3 linked regions of the Homo sapiens genome follow. The protein of the gene in region 1 purifies or fractionates together with the protein of each later gene. This does not show direct contact. Each region holds a gene or a part of one and is shown in the gene's direction. Other genes may lie near its edges.

Evidence for each region. Proteins that work in one complex are often made in the same cells at the same time.
Region 2: the proteins of MPPED2 (region 1) and SULT1A3 purify together in Homo sapiens (affinity purification with mass spectrometry, with the first as the bait; 2 studies listed by BioGRID). This does not show direct contact.
Region 3: the proteins of MPPED2 (region 1) and NR2F6 purify together in Homo sapiens (affinity purification with mass spectrometry; 3 studies listed by BioGRID and IntAct, with this or other methods). This does not show direct contact.

What each region holds. Positions count from the first base shown.
Region 1 is NC_000011.10:30,575,731-30,584,683, reverse strand, and holds part of MPPED2 (metallophosphoesterase MPPED2), read left to right. Parts: exon of another isoform or gene 1-218; intron 219-450; exon of another isoform or gene 451-1,809; intron 1,810-4,189; 5' UTR 4,190-4,310; coding exon 4,311-4,438; intron 4,439-8,953. UniProt on the Homo sapiens protein: Displays low metallophosphoesterase activity (in vitro). May play a role in the development of the nervous system.
Region 2 is NC_000016.10:30,201,012-30,205,520, forward strand, and holds the end of SULT1A3 (sulfotransferase 1A3), read left to right. Parts: coding exon 1-95; intron 96-184; coding exon 185-282; intron 283-1,678; coding exon 1,679-1,805; intron 1,806-1,900; coding exon 1,901-1,995; intron 1,996-2,493; coding exon 2,494-2,674; intron 2,675-2,796; coding exon 2,797-2,909; 3' UTR 2,910-3,299; downstream 3,300-4,509. UniProt on the Homo sapiens protein: Sulfotransferase that utilizes 3'-phospho-5'-adenylyl sulfate (PAPS) as sulfonate donor to catalyze the sulfate conjugation of phenolic monoamines (neurotransmitters such as dopamine, (R)-adrenaline/epinephrine, (R)-noradrenaline/norepinephrine and serotonin) and phenolic and catechol drugs.
Region 3 is NC_000019.10:17,230,673-17,237,162, reverse strand, and holds the end of NR2F6 (nuclear receptor subfamily 2 group F member 6), read left to right. Parts: intron 1-1,097; coding exon 1,098-1,664; intron 1,665-4,536; coding exon 4,537-4,811; 3' UTR 4,812-5,280; downstream 5,281-6,490. UniProt on the Homo sapiens protein: Transcription factor predominantly involved in transcriptional repression.

The sequences.
Region 1 (8,953 bases):
CTGAGGTCGGGGACGTGGGGCTGTGATGCCCGACCGAGGATGGCGTGGTGTCAGAGCCATTGGCCGCCGGTGGTCATCAATCAATCCAGAGCTAGGGAAGAGGGAGAGAAAAAAGATAGGCGTCCAGCGGAGCCCGGGGCCGCCAGCGCTAGCGCCAGCAGTGCCAGCAGGAGCGGCGGCCGAGGAGGTGACGGAGGTGGCAACGGGGGACTGAGCGAGTAAGGCGCTGGTGTTTCAGGAAGGAAGGGGAAGTTGTAGCCGGGAAGAGCCAGCCGTGAGCCTAGAAGGGCAGGGCGAGTGTATGTGGTGTGTGTGTGTGTGTGTGTGTGTGTGTGTGTGTGTAGTTCATAAAGCACCCCCCACCCCGCCTCGCGCAACTGCCCACCACCCTAGATTTAAAACAAACAAACCAATCCAAAGTAGAGAATTCCGCGCCCCCCACCGCCCCACCTTATATAGACTCCACGAGTTGCCAGAGGCTCCGGAGAAAAGTCTTGCCCTCCCTCTCCGAAAGAATGTGTCACCCGGGTGTCCGCAGTGCTGGAGACAAGTTCAGGTGTAAGTGCGGTGGGAGGGAGGGCGCTCGGTGGACAGAAGCACGTGGAACTTTATGTCAGCCTCCCCCAAAAAAACCCTGGCGGAGAAGCCCGCCGGGAAGGCGTGTGGGCATCGCTCCCAGATACAGGGATGAGTAACTGGAAGTGGGCATAAAAGAGTAGGGGCGTGAATTAAGAACGCACTGGATCTGCGCGGCAGAGGGAGGAGAGAGCGAAATTTGGCGGATTTGGAGCAGGCAAGTTCCAAAGTCCCGCCAGGCTCGGTCTGGAGATCTTGGGGCAAGTGATTAAAATGAGCATCCTTGTTGAAACGAGAAAACCGCGGGCTCTTTTCTCATAGGCTGTGCTGGGCAGTGCAGGGGTAGAGAGGTCATGAGTTGTTGCTTTGAAAGTTTTGGTAAATTGGACTTCTGGTGTCTAGGAGGTGGAGACAGTTATTTAATTCCTCAGCTTTTAATCCCTTCATTGCCAGCCGACTTTAAAAGGTTTTCCAACTAGATTCCTGGAAAAGAATATTGCTAGTTGTACAGCTTAAAGGACAGAAGTGATTGCTGTCTAGGAAATGCAAAATGTACTCACATGATTTTCTTTTTAAAGAGAAAAATCAAACTAGCACCAGCATGAATGTTTGGCAGTGTCAGTCCCTTTTAGATTTTTCTTTCGGCTTCTTGATATTTCGTCCTGGGTTCCTTTGTTTTGTGGAAAGTGTGTTGAAGTATAAAATGAAAATTTATGAAAAGAATAGTGCTGTCTTTAAATATTGTGTGTAAAAAGTTAAAGTAAGTGTGAAGAGGGTGAGATGCACGAAAATCTGATCATTTGGAAGGTTTTACTGCCTAAATATACATCTTCTTGATAGTTGTAAGCAGTGTATCCTTCTGTCTTGTTTCAAGCTCTCTCCAAATTTCTCAGGTTATAGGAAGTGGTTTTGTCTATTGTCCCTTGTCTCTGAGAGTTTACCAAAAAAAAAAAAAAAAAAAAAAAAAAAAAAAGAAAAAGTCTTTTCCAGGTGTTTGTGTTTAAAATTCTTAAGATGTGTTCATTTTGAGATACGGGTGGGGATGAACATAGCATTTTAAAAAATAAGCCTTTTCTTGACTTGTCTGTAAAGGTGCTGTGAAAGTTTTGAAGCTCTCTGCCTCAGTCTGACATTTTCTTCAAAGGACTCCAGATTAAAGAAGATAGACGCTGCAGGTGCACTGTTTCGATGAAACATTTGAAAGGGAACATGGCAAAGATGAATTCAAATGAGGTGCCAGCCACCCATTTAGCCTTTCAGAGTTACAGGGGCCTGTGCTTGCTGATGAAAAGATGTTCTATTTGTCTTACTGGGGCAAAGGTGCAAAGAGGCATAGATGTTCAGTGATAGAGAAGGTTGACATTAGGATCAAGCGGACCATGTAGAAGTGCAAATTGATCAGCTGCTAAATTCTGTCTCTTCTTAGCTTCAAATAGTAGAACTTGGGTGGGTATCATGCTAACTGCTACAAGTCATTACCTAGATGTTTAAATATTAGGTATGTATATTTTATTTCTAGGCCACATTTGCTTGGTTTAATTAGTGTGTTTACTCCAGAAACATTTAAAATCTTTCTAGTACTGGGTGCAGAGATTGTTACTCAGAGGTCACAGCGGTCTAGACATGAATTTGATTTCCTTTGCTTCTTAATGTTCAGTATTTCACACAATAGACATTGATGGAAGAATGAACATAAGAATTGTCAAGTAATTTTTACACCACTCTCTAATTTATGCAAACACTAACTTCTCACAGTCTGAAAATGTGAATTTTTCCCCCTCTGTGCTTTGATGGCTAACATTCTTTTTAATGACAGTCATTTCTATAACAGGAAGATGTTTTCATTTGTATTTACTTTTCAGCGCGACGCAATTATGCAGTTTTGCGCTTCAGTAGTGTCTCGGTACTTTGTGTCTCAAAAGAGAATTACAGTACTTAGAACAGGACTGCAATTTGAAGCAGGTGTTGTGTTTTACTGTTATGCAAAATAACAGTAAAATATAATTGTGGGAGAAATTAAGGAAACAGCTGCAAACTTGGTATGAAAACTGCTACATTATGATTTGTAAGCAGTTCTTATAGATATCTTACATCAGAGGAGCAGGGAAAGATTTTAATTTAGTTAATCCTACTGGCCTGGTTGTCTATCATCTGGCGCTTAAAAGACTCATACCTCCCATGAAGTCAGGAAAAAGAAAGAGAACCCAAAGTGACACTTTGTTTAAAATGCCAGAGCACGGGGATTCATCTCTTGGCAGTGCACTTGACATTAGGAAGGCAGGCAAGGTGGGTGTTATTTAGCTTGCTTTGCTAATATGAAGAAGGCAATGATTTGAGTAGAACACTCTGGAATTTCTTAGCCCAGCTAGCATATGGGGGATTACTCAAGCCCCGGGTTGTAAAATAATAAAATAAATGGCCTATGGCAGGCCATCTGCCTTTTGCTCGATATTTAAGGTGTTTCATGCCAATTTTAAATCTCATCTTATTATTCTAAATATTTTTATTTGAAATAGCAGATAAGATTCTCAGAGCTTAATGGTGCACATGGCAAACCTATTCTGACGTTGTGCACTTAAAGTAAGAGCATGGGTTACCTAAGGGTTACCCAAGGAGTGTACTACGGCTTCTTCTCTACCGCACTGATCAATTGCAACAACTTGGACATGAGAATTTGCTTCCCTCAGCCTTTGCACACCTACCATAAAAATAGACATCTTCATTTCTCAACCCAGTGCAGCAAATAATATATTGACATTTATGAAAAAATCAGAACTAATGGAAATTTTAAAAAATGAAACCAATTACTGAGAATTACGTTGCACCAAGAATGAGGTGGCAGATGTAATGGCCGCCCTTCTTTACCGCTCCATCGGGGCTTGAAGAAGGGAGGTAATGAATGCATTCAAAGTGGTGGTCCAGACCTGGAGGTGTTTGGTTTTCCCCTGAGTGACTGGAGTGTTGAAAAAAATGACACTACATTTAACAAGAAAGATTTGCCTTACCATAAGGTTCTGGGCCAGTGAGGAATGCCAAGCATTGCCTACCTGTGTATTTTGGGAGCTGCTTGTGAAAGAAAAAAATATGTGTAATGTGTGGTTATTATGTGCATGTTATAGTAATACACATGTATTTGTTATAAGCACAACATTTTAAATTCTTATCTGTCATTGTGTTATATAGCTGCTTTAAACATGGAGCTTTCAAATGATTACGTGACACCAACTTTGTAAAGACCAAACATTCCAATTAGCAGGGCAGGTTTGGAAGATTCTTCACTTGGAGCACAAACCATGTATAGCCAGATGCCATGGCAACGGTGGATATGCCCCTTCCGTAATTCACGCTAAGTGCCATAATTATAATTAAAGAGGAAATCTTAGTTTGAACTCCATTGAGAAGATTTGCTAGCACCCAGCAATATGTATAGAGTGTAATATCCACTTTGAAGTGCATGAAGGGAAGAGAGTTGGGAACAGTTGTATCCATGAGCCAACAACACATATTCAGATTTTCCCTGAACTAGTTTCATGTCTAGATGTTAAATTTATGTCTCTTAGAACACCCTTTTTCTCTTTGTTCTCATTTTATATACATTTTTTTTTTCTTTCAGAAATGCACAGCGGTATTGATGAGTAGATCCTTGGATTCAGAGGTTGGCTGAAACGCACCATGCCTGCTTCCATCTTTTGCTCTGTAAAGTTGTGAATTGCTCATGCCTATAGGGAGGAAGGATGGCACATGGGATTCCTTCTCAAGGCAAAGTTACCATAACGGTGGATGAGTACAGCTCAAACCCCACCCAGGCATTCACGCACTACAACATCAACCAGAGCAGATTCCAGCCTCCACATGTACATATGTAAGTATCGCTTATGAACTTAACAAAATTAGCAATCAAGAAAATAAAAAGAAAAAAAAGAAAAGCATTCACTATTAACTTCTGCTAGGGAGACTAAAAGGTAAATGATTTACAAATCAGATGGATATCTGTGGTTTCAAATACAGCTCAGGAGGAATCCCATACATCTGTGTAACATTTCAAATTTTCAGAGCACTTTCAACCACAATTGAAATTAGATTTTCAGAGCCTCTGAGGACTGGTGGTTGGTTGCCCCTATTTATAGATAAGAACGGAAAAGAACAGAGAGGTTAAAGTATTTGCCACACAGCGAATTTGCCTGAGACTCCTGACCCCTAGTTCAATTTGCTTTACATTGTATTGCTTGCCTCCATTCTGAAATATTTCTTTAAAATTTCTGTAGTTTTTTTTTTTTTTCCCACACCTCACCCCACTAGCCCTTTACATTCAGCTGGGAAATAGGCCTAATTGGGACTAATTGTCCAGCTACTGCTAGATCCATTGTCTTGCCTGTTGCTAGTGAAACGTGTGCTGCATGCTACAGGACTCAAACAATATGGGGAACAAAGGAATAAGGGACAGTGGAACAGTTGGTTCCAGGAATTGTACTTTCCTCTCACTCCCTAATACTATTTAAGTCATGTTGAGGTTTAAACTGTTTAAGGAGCAAAGTGTGGCAGAAACCCAGAGGCAAGGATTTTGCAGCACCTGGTTGCACATCAACTTTTTTCTGGTCCTCTGCTACAGGATGTGCTGGGCTTTCAGAAGAAGGGAGCAAAAGGTCACCATCTCTCTTGTTTATTCAAGGCCTGGTGCTCATTCTCTATGAGACCCTTCCAATGTCTAACATGAGTCTTTCATAGTAGGACTAAACCTCTTTGAAAACTATTGTATAGTCAAGATAGAAAGGAGGTTAGAGCTCTGTTGACTGTTTTTACCACTCCTGGAAGAATTGAACTCGGGGCATGTCCAAGTCACAAGCTCTTTTTTTAGGAATTGTTTTACATGAGCATTTAAAAAAAAATAGTAGGACACCCCAAATACACACACCCCCCCACCCTGGAATTTACAAACGCTAACCAAACAAAAGGGTCTTTCCATTGACTGCCTGGATATTAGTGTAAATACTAGGATGTTGCTTTGCAAGTATATTCTGGAGAGCGAGTCAGTTACCTATGATGAGATTTCTGCAAAGCAGCCGTTTTAAAGCAGCATGCTTGAGTGACCAAAAAAAAAAAAAAAAGGAAAAGACAATCCTTGTAAGTGGTTACTGCTAAACTATTTGAAAGAACTTTATACGTTCTTTAAATGAGAATATATTCATGATTATGAAGGATCGCTAACATGATTTTAAGGAAAAATGGATAAAGTTTTTCTTTGTTAAAATAGCTTTTCTGAACAATAAATATCTGTTTAATTCAAATATTCTTTTTATTCTACTGTTTCTATTTACTTGTTTTTCTTCAAATATGTTACAATATTTGTGTAAGCCATACTTTAGAATAGCTTCAGTTCTGTTTTGCTGGTGTTATGTTTTTGTATTAAAGAACTACAAGGAACTTTGTAGATGCTGTTTCCATTCAAGCAAAACAAAGTGTGTTTTGCCCAGATTCCTTGGAAAATGACTGCTGGGGAACCTCAGCTTAGTTCTCAAGTCTGCAGACATCTGCTCACTTGTTCTTGGCCTCAAGATTCCACTGGCGAACTGTGAATGCACAGAGATATTTTAAAAATCATGTAACTTTAAAGTTGATCTGCTTTTATCTAGCCATAACAAATTTGAAGGATCAAATTATACCTCTTTTGAAAAAAATGGCTTGAAAATGGGGCAACCTAGACAGCTGTGTAGTGCTTTCACCAGACTCCTGATCTTGGAATAGAGGATTCTTCTACAGGCTAGTTCCAGTGTACCTTTTCACTTTTATTGCCAATAAGGGCTTCCCATCTGAACCCTCTGCTTCAGCCACACAGTTTGGCTCCCTGTCATCTGAACACATCTTAGCACCTTCCATCTTGGTGCCATTGCCATCACTGTTTCTTACAGAGCGTAACACATTTACGCTCTGCTCATCAAATGCCTCAAAGCTAGTTTAGGTTCCTCCACTTAAGCCTTTTCTACCTATCCGTTTCCAATCCAAAATGATCATGCCTGCCCAAGTTACTTGGCAACACTTTATACCACCTCCATTATTATTTTTCTTAATCTGTCTGTTTCTCTGTCTACCTACCTACCTATCTACCTATCTGTATCTATCTATCTGCCTATCTGTCTCTTATTCTTTTAATTTTTTACTTCTTAAAGAAAGGCTTGTTCTTCTGAGCAGGTGACAGATGCTCAAAAACACTGGTCAATTGATCCATTGATTTGATTATGCATTGAATAGAGAGAATAGATTGATGCTTGGAGATTTTCACTGGAATTTTTCTGTCAGTTCTTGACATTTTGAATGTTTTCATGATGGTACGTGTTGTCAGGAGGCTGGCTTACCTTTTCCCTGGCTTTACTCTTTCTTGCTTGAGAACATGCCATTGTTTTGTAGGCCTGATGGCCTCACACAGTGACTGACCTATGGTAGGTGGTCAGGGATCTTGGTTGGATTTAATCATGTCATATTTCTGTTATGTTAAGAAACAAAAATTGGCCTTAATCTAATTAGAAACTTTAATTGGCTAGAAAATATCTATAAAATATTTAGTCTAAAATGTCTTCAGTTTTTCTGAAAATTTCAACATGTCATGGCAGAACTTTGCTCCTCTCCCCGAGGTAAAGATATTTTGTCTTTTCCACTTGCGTAGTTGCTCATTTATTTTGCATGGGATTGTTAAATTATTTGCTTCCTTTTTTCACTTACACTTGAGATTTCTGAAGACCCCTGACAGATCACTTGGATTATAGTTAAAAACCCTATCCCTTTAATGATGTCTTACTTTCTTTTCTACAGCCTTGTGATGGTAGTTGGGGTTTTTCACCTTAATTAGGAAGAGCTCACTTCCCATTTAATTCAATTAGTCTCAGCTCAGCTTTGTGACTAACAAATTTTCTTTTCCAAGTCTCAGTTTACTCATCTGTAAATATTTGCACCAAATGATGGTTAAGGATCTTTTTAGCTCTGACTTGCTAAGATTAAGATTGCAGTTAAGACAATGTTTATTTGCAAGGCGATGCTATTAAGGAAACAAAAATAAATAAGACCCAGTCCCCATCTTCATGAAGCTCATTGCTGATTTCAGAGCTGATGTTTCAAACAGCTTTAAGAAGCATTGGTTTAGTTTTCATCTCTGAGTTCTGACAAGATTACCACCAAGCTCTCTAAGAATGACTGGCTTGAATCTCTGCTTGTTATGGAGGGAAGTTTTTTTTTTTTAGAAAGCAATCCTGTATGACCTTGGGAAAGAAAATTAAAGCACAGCTGGAGTTGGCAGAGCAAAATTTAACCTAGAATTTGTGTGCCTCACTTACCCAGACTCTTGAGCATACTAATAGATGTGATGATTGAAGCCCAGCAATTAACAGGGTTTCATTTTTCCACAACCCCTTCATCTTTCCCAAGCAGAATGATAAGAAAAATTATTTAGTATTTTTAATGATGGTGGGAGGAGGTGCTGAAGGAGCCAATGTAGGTCTGAAAACACCATAAAGATTTTGTATGTGTTTCATAATCTGAGGCCTAATCAAATGTTACAAAACTTTATTAGTAGGGTATCCAGCCATTTCAGTTTTAGCATTGAAATCCCCGTGTTATTGGAATGCCATAGGACAATAGGATACCCTACTCAGGTTAATTCTTCATGTTTTTCTTTAAGGATTGACGACTAGGGAACTCAAATCAAGCCTTGTTTTCAGTTTTAGCCACTTTCCTTATCTGCGCCTTCTGTTGTTAACACCCCTTGAATCTTACACTGCACTTGTTCTTTTACCCTGGTTCTGTGGAGGCAGGTTAGCATAGTGGTCAATATCACCTGTGGAATCAGATTACCGGGTTTAACATTTGCTTGCACCACTGACTAGCTGTATAACCAACTGTGAATACATACTCTAACTTCCTTATGTTTTATTTTTCTATCTGTAAGATCCGGACCATAAAAGTAATGCCTATCTCAAAAGGCTGTGGAGGATAGAAGGATGAAACAGTATTACATGTTAATGCTTATACATACATAGTCTATGCTCAATAAATGTTAGCTGTTATCATTAATAATTTTTTCATTGATTCTGGGTTTTTAATTTTAAACTGCCAATTCATTTGAAAAGCAGTGGAGTGTATACAAATGAATAAATAAAGTCATTGCTAAATCTTGTCCTTTCTTCCTCATGGAGCTATGAGCAGCAAAGAGTCATGGAAACTTTTCTAGGTGGGATTTTGGTTTGTCAGGGTTGGCAAGTGTCCCGGTTTAGTGCCTTTCAAGATTATAAACAGCCTAGGAGTGTCTCATCCACCTCCAGTTACTCCACGGGAGTGGCAGTCCCAAGGCGGGGATGGAATCTTGTGAGCTGAGTGCTGACTGGTTGCTGTC
Region 2 (4,509 bases), on another chromosome or scaffold:
GATCTACCAGGGCGGCGACCTAGAGAAGTGTAACCGGGCTCCCATCTACGTACGGGTGCCCTTCCTTGAGGTCAATGATCCAGGGGAACCCTCAGGTGCATGGCTGGGTCCTGGGGGTAAGGGAAGTGGAGGAAGACAGGGCTGGGGCTTCAGCTCACCAGACCTTCCCTGACCCACTACTCAGGGCTGGAGACTCTGAAAGACACACCGCCCCCACGGCTCATCAAGTCACACCTGCCCCTGGCTCTGCTCCCTCAGACTCTGTTGGATCAGAAGGTCAAGGTGAGGCCGGGCTCAATGGTTCACACCTGTCATCCCAGTTTGAGACTGAGGAGGGAGGATCCCTTGAAGGCGAGAGATGGAGACCAGCCTGGGCAACATTGCTGTAGAGATGACATCCCATCTCTACAAAAATAAAATTAACAACCTGGTATGGTGGCATAGACTGTTCCCAGTTACTTAGGAGGCTCAGCGGGGAGGACTGTTTATGCAAATAGGAAGCTGCAATGAGCCCTGATGATCCTGCTGCTGCACTCCAGCCTGGGCAACACAGCAAAACCATCTCTACGAAAAAAAAAGTTCCCACTGACTGGCAAGGAAAGCCAGGAAGGGGGGCTCAGGTGCCCTCTCAGCCATGTACCTGTTCTTCTGGAAGGGCCTCCTCGCTTCTGCCAGGCTCATCACATCTTTTTTTTTTTTTGAGACAGAGTCTTGCTCTGTCACCCTGGCTGGAGTGCAGTGGCATGATCTCAGCTCACTGCAACCTCCGCCTCCCCAGTTCAAGTGATTCTCCTGCCTCAGCCTCCTGAGTAGCTGGGATTACAGGCGTGTGCTACCACACCCGGCTAATTTTTGTATTCTTTTTAGTAGAGACGGGGTTTCACCATGTTGGTCAAGTGGATCTCAAACTCTTGACCTTGTGATCCTCCTGCCTCGACCTCACAAAGTGCTGGAATTACAGGCGTGAGCCACCGCGCCTGGCCCTTTTTTTTTTTGAGACAGTTTCACTCTTGTTGCCGAGGCTAGAGCGCAATCGTGTGATCTCGGTTCACTGCAACCACCGCCTCCTGGGTTCAAGCAATTCTCCTGCTTCAGCCTCCCAAGGAGCTGGGATTACAGGTACCTGCCACCACGCCCGGCTAATTTTGTATTTTTAGTAGAGATGGGGTTTCACCATGTTGGTCAGGCTGGTCTTGAACTCCTGACCTCAGGTGATCTGGCCACCTTGGCCTCCCAAAGTGCCGGGATTAGAGGCATGAGCCACCACGCCCAGCCTTCATCACATCTTGAGAGAGGACACTGTCTGCCTCTTGCTCTGATGAGGGTCTGATGCAAGGATAGTGAGTCTCTACAGTGCACACTTAAGAAAGGCAGCATGTGGGTGCTCACAGGTCAGCGGAGGAGGGGGAGCTGGTGGGGACCAGGCATGCCTTGCTCCAGATCAGGATATGATGGCATTGGTGCAGATTATATTAGTATAGAATATGGTCTCAGGAACCAGGCAGGACTTTGGCTTCCGAGCAGGGTTCAGATCCCAGCTTGGCCCTACCTGTGCAGTGAGATCTCAAGCAAGTCAGCCTCTAAGCCTCAGGTTCCTCCTTTGCCAGTTCAACAGATGAGCTGGCCTGGGGTGGGCTGTGTGGTGATGGTGCTGGGGCTGGGTCCTCTGCCCCTGCAGGTGGTCTATGTTGCCCGAAACCCAAAGGACGTGGCGGTCTCCTACTACCATTTCCACCGTATGGAAAAGGCGCACCCTGAGCCTGGGACCTGGGACAGCTTCCTGGAAAAGTTCATGGCTGGAGAAGGTGGGCTTGACTGGAGGAAGGAGGGTGTGAAGCCGAGGGGTGGTGGCTATAACGTACAGCAACCCTGTGTCGGTGCCCCCTGCCCGCTTCTCTAGTGTCCTACGGGTCCTGGTACCAGCACGTGCAGGAGTGGTGGGAGCTGAGCCGCACCCACCCTGTTCTCTACCTCTTCTATGAAGACATGAAGGAGGTGAGACCGACTGTGATGCTTCCCCCCATGTGACACCTGGGGGCAGGCACCTCACAGGGACCCACCAAGGCCACCCAGCCCCGTCCCTGGGCGGCTCCCACAGCAAGCCCGGATTCCCCATCCTACCTCCCTGGCCCAGGCCCCCCCACTGCAGCCCCACCTGGCAGCAGGCTCGGCACAGCTTTCATCTTCTGCACCTGAGTCAGCTGCATGGGTGGCCACGGATCAGATACTTAGTCCTATTGCTTATCCTCACCAAAGGGTGTGCCACCCAGGGCCACAGTCATGGAAGAAGACCATCCCGGTCCTCACCCATAGGCGCCAAGCCCTGTTCATGATGGGATCACAGGGCAGAGATCAATTCATTTTACTCCAGAGACTAGGGCCCCAGGGGTTGAGGCTCTTTGGGGTTTCTAGGGGAAGTGGCCAGATCCCCTCTGAGGTTAGAGAGGGGGACCCGTTTTGTTTTGCTCCACTGAGGAGCCCTCTGCTGCTCAGAACCCCAAAAGGGAGATTCAAAAGATCCTGGAGTTTGTGGGGCGCTCCCTGCCAGAGGAGACCATGGACTTCATGGTTCAGCACACGTCGTTCAAGGAGATGAAGAAGAACCCTATGACCAACTACACCACCGTCCCCCAGGAGCTCATGGACCACAGCATCTCCCCCTTCATGAGGAAAGGTGGGTGCTGGCCAGCACGGGGGTTTGGGGCGGGTGGGAGCAGCAGCTGCAGCCTCCCCATAGGCACTTGGGGCCTCCCCTGGGATGAGACTCCAGCTTTGCTCCCTGCCTTCCTCCCCCAGGCATGGCTGGGGACTGGAAGACCACCTTCACCGTGGCGCAGAATGAGCGCTTCGATGCGGACTATGCGGAGAAGATGGCAGGCTGCAGCCTCAGCTTCCGCTCTGAGCTGTGAGAGGGGCTCCTGGAGTCACTGCAGAGGGAGTGTGCGAATCTACCCTGACCAATGGGCTCAAGAATAAAGTATGATTTTTGAGTCAGGCACAGTGGCTCATGTCTGCAATCCCAGCGATTTGGGAGGTTGAGCTGGTAGGATCACAATAGGCCACGAATTTGAGACCAGCCTGGTAAAATAGTGAGACCTCATCTCTACAAAGATGTAAAAAAATTAGCCACATGTGCTGGCACTTACCTGTAGTCCCAGCTACTTGGGAAGCAGAGGCTGGAGGATCATTTCAGCCCAGGAGGTTGTGGATACAGTGAGTTATGACATGCCCATTCACTACAGCCTGGATGACAAGCAAGACCCTCCCTCCAAAGAAAATAAAGCTCAATTAAAATAAAATATGATTTGTGTTCATGTAGAGCCTGTATTGGAAAGGAAGAGAAACTCTGAGCTGAAAGAGTGAATGCCCGGTGGGGCCACATATGGTCACCTCTCCCCCAGCCTTCAGCTCCCCAGGTCACCATATCTGGGGAGGGGAGAAGGGTTTGGAGAAGTAAAACCCAGGAGATGTGTGGAGGGGGGATGTCTGTTTAATCCCAGCACATCCTCTGCTGTCCTGCCCCAAGATGGTGGAGGACGTCGAGTCCGCCGGGCAGCGTCACTTTTTCTTGGGCTCCTTAGAAGCTACCAGGTACCTCTGGGCCACACTGAGATGAGGGGAGTAGCCGTCTGCATAGGAGGTGTCTTCAAACAGGATAGAATAGTCCTCCTGGGGCTGTGGGGCAGGTGGACAGGAAGGGCAGAGAGCAGCCCCGGGGCTGGTGTCACTCACTTGTTGGTGGCATGGCTGTAACTGACCACCTCGGCCAGGATCCACTGCTCATCCCCATCCACGGCCTTCACCCGGGCAGCCACCTTGTCTCCAGGTCTGGCCACGTAGTCTCCTGAGGCAGGGATGGCCCCACAGAGGGGTGGGGGCCTGTGAGTGGAACAAAGGATCAGTCCCAGCCCCTGGGCACCAGCCCCTTCCTCGCAGCTGCTGCCCTCACTTGTCACCAGGCTTCCCAATCCACAGGGGCAGGGTCATGGCCGACTGCTGCAGCAGGGTCATCAGCACCCCTCTGCGCATGGTCTTCCGGGGTGGCTCCAAGTCATTGTAGAGACCCGCGATCTTGGCCACTGTGGGAAGAAAGGGAGGCCTGAGGCCCCAGGGACAGGGGCTGGCCCTGACCCCCCAGCATGCTGAACTGAGCTGCTGGAGGAGCACCTGGGAGCCCCCAGCTCCCGAGTGAGCCCGAGGGCACAGCAGGACTGTGACCTGATCTGCCAGGTGTCCTACAGGGGCTGCTGCGCTCAACTACATATGGGTGAGACGGCAGCACACCAGGCACCCAGGGGAAGGAACCAGGGAGGGACAAAGCGGGTTCTGAGGTGCTGGTGAGGTTCTCTTCTTGATGTCGGTGCTGACACAGAAGTGTGTTTCGTTAGTGAAAAGTTCCTAAAATTCGAAGGGTCCCGCGGGAATCGGGGCGAGGCCGGGTGCCTCTTCAGCGTCCAGCTGCTCTACTGCCTGAATCCCTGGTACCCGGGCCCTGTCTACGTGGGGCTC
Region 3 (6,490 bases), on another chromosome or scaffold:
CATGCCCTGGCTTCTCCGCTTAGCTCTGTTCGCCCCTGGCTTCTGCTCGCGTTCCCCTCCGGTGTTTGCTCTACACAGAGTTGACCTGGAGTTCACGGAGGTGATGAGATGGGGCATGCCAGCTCATTAAAGCTCATTAATTAGTCTGCTGGCAACCAGCCCAGTCAGCCCTGCCATCCCGCCCACCCCGGCACAAGCCAGGCAGGCACATGGCCAACTCTCTTCCTCTTCATGCCTCAGTTTCCCTTTTCTCACCCACCTGGTCACTGCAGACGTGCCCAAGCCAGCAGCAGGGCCTCCCCGCTTCATAAGCAAGGCTACTGATGGCGGCTAATGTTTACTGAGGACCTATGGCAGCCCCCCTGGGACCCCTCCTTACTGTAGGTCCCCCCCAACCCTTCCCTGCACTGTAGCCTCTGCAGGGACCCAGACCGGCCCTCAGGGGTCACCATCTGGTGGGGAGGGGGATGGAAGGTAGAGAAATGATCCCTGTTCCATAGGAGAGAGCCAGTGCTGGGTGGGTATTGATCTGTTGCTTTGGGGACCAAGCTGGCCAGGGTCCCCAAGTCCTCCATGGCCCATCCTCAGCTCTGGGAACCCCATGACTATCTGTTAGGAGGCTCCAAAAGGTTTATTAGATGCTCCTCCTTGTCCCCAGGAGCTGGGGGTGGGGGGTGGTGGCTGGACCTAGACAGGGACTCCTGGACTCTTACTTTCTAACCAGCCTGGCGCCCATGGGGTGGGGTTGGGCATTCTGGGAAAGGCTGGGCCTGGAGGCTTTGGAGGGGAGGGCCTGAGTGACCCCTTGATGACTTTTGTCTCCCTTTCCCGTTATTCTCCCTACCTGCCCCCCCCCACCTGCCCCCCACCCCATGTCTCTATGGGCACCTACTTGGCCCCTCATCCCCCCTCTTCCGGCCCTCTCCTCTCTACCCCTCGCTTCCCTTCCTGTCTCTCCAATCTCCTCTCCTCCCGGCCTTCTGTGCCCCGCCCTCCCCTCCCCCATCTCCTGTCCCTCCCCCGTTTCCTGCTGCCCGCCCCCCCCCCCCCCGCCTCCCCTCCCGCCCCCATGTCCCTCCTGTCCCCGCCTCCCGCAGCGGTGCAGCGCGGCCGCATCCCGCACTCGCTGCCTGGTGCCGTGGCCGCCTCCTCGGGCAGCCCCCCGGGCTCGGCGCTGGCGGCAGTGGCGAGCGGCGGAGACCTCTTCCCGGGGCAGCCGGTGTCCGAACTGATCGCGCAGCTGCTGCGCGCTGAGCCCTACCCTGCGGCGGCCGGACGCTTCGGCGCAGGGGGCGGCGCGGCGGGCGCGGTGCTGGGCATCGACAACGTGTGCGAGCTGGCGGCGCGGCTGCTCTTCAGCACCGTGGAGTGGGCGCGCCACGCGCCCTTCTTCCCCGAGCTGCCGGTGGCCGACCAGGTGGCGCTGCTGCGCCTGAGCTGGAGCGAGCTCTTCGTGCTGAACGCGGCGCAGGCGGCGCTGCCCCTGCACACGGCGCCGCTACTGGCCGCCGCCGGCCTCCACGCCGCGCCTATGGCCGCCGAGCGCGCCGTGGCTTTCATGGACCAGGTGCGCGCCTTCCAGGAGCAGGTGGACAAGCTGGGCCGCCTGCAGGTCGACTCGGCCGAGTATGGCTGCCTCAAGGCCATCGCGCTCTTCACGCCCGGTGAGCCACGCTCCGAAGAGGGCCGCGGGATGGGGGGACCCAAGGGAGGTTAGGAGGAGGGCGGCCTGGACCCAGACTCCGGCCCCCATAGCGCCCCGCTCGCTCCCTAGGCCTGGGGCCCTGCACGCGCCGTGAGTGAACGCTCTTGGGTGGCTGTAGAGGGGTGATGTAAGCAGTGTGACACTGTGACACCCCCACTCCGTGATCCCAGGACTCTCGGAGAACTCTGAACCCCGGACCCCAGACCCAAGGCTGGGCCAGGACCAGGGCCCAGACCCCAGAACCCTCTTCCTGTTCCCAGGCTCCCTGAGACCCCTACTCCCTCACCAAAGGGCTCTTCAGGCTTAGTGAGCACTGATAGCACAAGGTTGGGGGGACGTGGGAGGGAAGGTCCTGACCCCCTGGTTCTGGCCCCCTCAGGCCCCCACTGGGCTCCCAGGGCAACCTCCAGGTAGCCAGGGTTGTAGGGATCTGGGTAGGGGCGTGGCTCGGAGGCCCCTCCCGTTGAGGGGCGGGGCAACCCCAGAACTTTCTTAACCATCAGCTATCTAGCAGTGGTAGCCCATCGTATTCCAGCGACTGGCGGTACAGCCAAATTTTTTTTTTCCACTTTATTTTTTTATTTGTATTTCCATTTTTTGAGACTGGGTCTCACCCTGTCACCCAGGCTGGAGTGCAGTTGTCCGAACACGGTTCACTGCAGCCTTGATCTCCAGGGCTCAAGCAATCCTCCCTCACACTTCAGCCTCTTGAGTAGCTGGGACCACAGGCGTGCACCACCATTCCCGGCTAATTTTTTTTTAAACGTTTTCTGTAGAGACGTGGTCTCACCGTGTTGCCTAGGCTGGTCTTGAGCTTCTGGGCGCAACCAGTCCTGCCTCAGCCACCCAAAGTGCTAGGATTACAGGCATAAGCCACCATGCCTTTAGACAAAGATCTCTCCAGCCTGTCTCCTGGGAGTTCTTTAACCTACTGGAAGTCTCTAGATCCCATCAGAGGTATCTTTGGGGCTAGGAACCAGATCCAGGCTACTCTGGGAGGTGGCTTTCATTTGATAAATATGGTTTTGGGCCTGCAAGGTGGCTCAGGCCTGTAATCACCGCACTTTAGGAAGCAGAGTTGGGAGAACCACTTGAGCCCAGGAGTTCGAGGCTCCAGTGAGCTCTGATTTTCCCACTGCACTTGAGCCTGCGCAACAGAGTGAGACCGCGTCTCAAAAATCAATAAATATGGCTTTATTTATTGTTTTCCCAGAAGATTTTTTTTTTTTTTTTTTGAGACGGAGTCTTACTCCGTCGCCCAGGCTGGAGTGCAGTAGCACGATCTCGGCTCACTGCAACCTCCGCCTCCCTGGTTCAAGCTATTCTCCTGCCTCAGCCTCCTGAGTAGCTGGGATTACAGGCACGCGTCACCACGCCTGGCTAATTTTTGTGTTTTTAGTAGAGACGGGGTTTCATCATGTTGGTCAGGCTGATCTCGAACTCCTGACCTCATGATCTGCCCGCCTCAGCCTCCCAAAGTGCTGGGATTACAGGCGTGAGCCACCGCGCCTGGCCTTCCCAGATTTCTTCTTGGCTTCCTATCTTGGGTCTCTCTCTAGAGGCTGCCACATTCTCTCACACCGTAGGCCCTTCTGGGCTCTGTCTTCCTCATCAAATTCCCTTCCCAGCCCCACCTTCCCTGCGAGCTTCCTTAGAACCCATCTCCTTGGCCTGGCTGGTGGCCCTGTAATCCCAGCACTTTGGGAGGCCGAGGTGGGGAGATTGCTTGAGGTCAGGAGTTCAAGACCAGCCTGGCCAACACAGCAAAACCCGTCTCTACTAAAAATACAAAAATTAGCTAGGCGTGGTGGAGTGTGCCTGTAATGCCAGCTACTTGTGAGGCTGCGGCAGGAGAATCACTTGAACCCGGAGGCAGAGGTTGCAGTGAGATCGTGCCACTACACTTCAGCCTGGGCGACAGTGTGAGACTCTATCTTAAAGAAAAAAAAATTAGAACCTGTCTCCCTGCCAAAGGCATGAGTTGGGTGCCAGCCACCCTTGAAACATCACTGCCTGCACCCCTATGTCACTGGTTAGATGAGAACACCTCACTATCTCTGGAGGATCGACACAGTCTTAGATAGTCCCATTTGCATCCCAGGGTCGTTTTTTGTTTTGTTTTGTTTTGTTTTGTTTTGTTTTGTTTGAGACAGGGTCTTATTACTCTGTCGCCCAGGCTGTGCTATGATCATGGATCACTGTAGCCTCAAACTCCTAGGCTCAAGAGATCCTCCCACCTCAGCCTCTTGAGGAGCTGGGACTACAAGCGTGTGCCATCACACTGGACTAATTTTTATTTTTTATTTATTTTGAGACAGGGTCTCCCTCTGTTGCCCAGGCTGGAGTGCAGTGGCACGATCTCGGCTCACTGCAACCTCCGCCTCCCAGGCTCAAGCGATCCTCCCATTAGCCTTCCGAGTAGCTGGAACTGCAGGCACGCACTACCATGCCTGGCTAATTATTCTTATTTTTAGTAGAGACGGAATATCATCATGTTGGCCAGGCTGGTCTTGAACTCCTGACCTCAAGTGATCCACCTGCCTCAGCCTCCCAAAGTGCTGGGATTACAGGCGTGAGCTACTGTGCCCAGCCCCAGCTGATTTGTTTTTGCAGAGAAGGGATCATACTATGTTGCCCTGGCTGGTCTCAAATCCTGGCCTTAAATGATGCTTCTGCCTTGGCCTCCCAAAGTGCTGGGACTGTGGCCGTGAGCCATCATGCCCGGCCCCCTGTTCTTACCCACAGTGGCGAGTGGTGTCCCCTAGTCACCCCTGTGGGCTCTGTGTTCTCTAGCTGCCTCCCACCTGTCTGACTTGCCTTTGTCCCCCTAGACGCCTGTGGCCTCTCAGACCCGGCCCACGTTGAGAGCCTGCAGGAGAAGGCGCAGGTGGCCCTCACCGAGTATGTGCGGGCGCAGTACCCGTCCCAGCCCCAGCGCTTCGGGCGCCTGCTGCTGCGGCTCCCCGCCCTGCGCGCGGTCCCTGCCTCCCTCATCTCCCAGCTGTTCTTCATGCGCCTGGTGGGGAAGACGCCCATTGAGACACTGATCAGAGACATGCTGCTGTCGGGGAGTACCTTCAACTGGCCCTACGGCTCGGGCCAGTGACCATGACGGGGCCACGTGTGCTGTGGCCAGGCCTGCAGACAGACCTCAAGGGACAGGGAATGCTGAGGCCTCGAGGGGCCTCCCGGGGCCCAGGACTCTGGCTTCTCTCCTCAGACTTCTATTTTTTAAAGACTGTGAAATGTTTGTCTTTTCTGTTTTTTAAATGATCATGAAACCAAAAAGAGACTGATCATCCAGGCCTCAGCCTCATCCTCCCCAGGACCCCTGTCCAGGATGGAGGGTCCAATCCTAGGACAGCCTTGTTCCTCAGCACCCCTAGCATGAACTTGTGGGATGGTGGGGTTGGCTTCCCTGGCATGATGGACAAAGGCCTGGCGTCGGCCAGAGGGGCTGCTCCAGTGGGCAGGGGTAGCTAGCGTGTGCCAGGCAGATCCTCTGGACACGTAACCTATGTCAGACACTACATGATGACTCAAGGCCAATAATAAAGACATTTCCTACCTGCACAGCCTCCCTGGTCTTTATTTTTATTTTTTATTTTTGAGACGGAGTCCTACTTCGTCACCCAGGCTGGAGTGCAGTGGCGTGATCTTGGCTCACTGTAACCTCTGCCTCACAGGTTCAAGCGATTCTCCTGCCTCAGCCTCCCCAGTAGCTGGAACTACAGGCACCCACCACGATGCCCAGCTAATTTTATTTTTGGTAGAGATGGGGTTTCACCATGTTGACCAGGTTGGTCTCGAACTCCTGACCTCAGGTGATGCACCTGAGGCCTCCAAAAGTGGATTACAAGCGTGAGCCACTGTGCCTAGCCTCACTTACTTTCTTTTGGTCAACCTTAATCTTTTTTTTTTTTTTTTTTTTTTTTTTTGAGATGGAGTTTCGCTGTTTCACCTGGGCTGGAGTGCAGTGGTGCAATCTTGGCTCAGTGCAACCTCTGCCTCCCGAGTTGGAGCAATTCTCCTGCCTCAGCCTCCTGAGTAGTTGGGATTACAGGTGCGCACCACCACGTTCAGCTGATTTTTGTACCTTAACTAGAGGGGTTTTGCCATGTTGGCCAGGCTGGTCTCGAACTCCTGACAGGTGATCCACCTGCCTTGGCCTCCCAAAGTGGTGTGATTATAGGCATGAGCTGCCGGGCCCTTAATCTTGTTTGGGCTCCAATGTCCTTGGGAGAAACCTCTGGGGCCAGTCCTGTCACATGATGTAAGGCGAGCCAATCAGAGACCACCATTCCCTGGGCCACAGCAACTGGTTTATGGAGGCCCTGGGATGCCAAACTAGCCAGTGAGATTGCACGGTGGGATTTGGAACTGGGAGAATCTAATTAAAGCAGAGCCAAGGATGGAAGATCAATTTCCCAAGATGCCTTTGGAGCCCCAGATCAAGCCATACCTGAAACCCTTGGGTGTTTTAAGTTCTGTGAACTCAGTCTCCCCCCTTTTGTGCCTGAGTCAATCTGACTTCAGTTTTTTTTCTCACATGGAACTAAAAATCTGTTTCAGAGATTGACGTTTGGGAGTCAGGCACCTACAAGGCCAAGACTTTGAAATGTGGGCTTCACTGGGTTGATACGGAATCATGTGGGGTACCAGGGACTCTCCCGTCCCAGCCTCGGGAGTGTGTGGCACAGCTCTGTGGTGGGAAAGGCACCTGTGGAATTCAGCACCAGAGCTGTAGGGCAGAGAGAAAGGGCCCGAATGGTGGTGGGGGTGGCA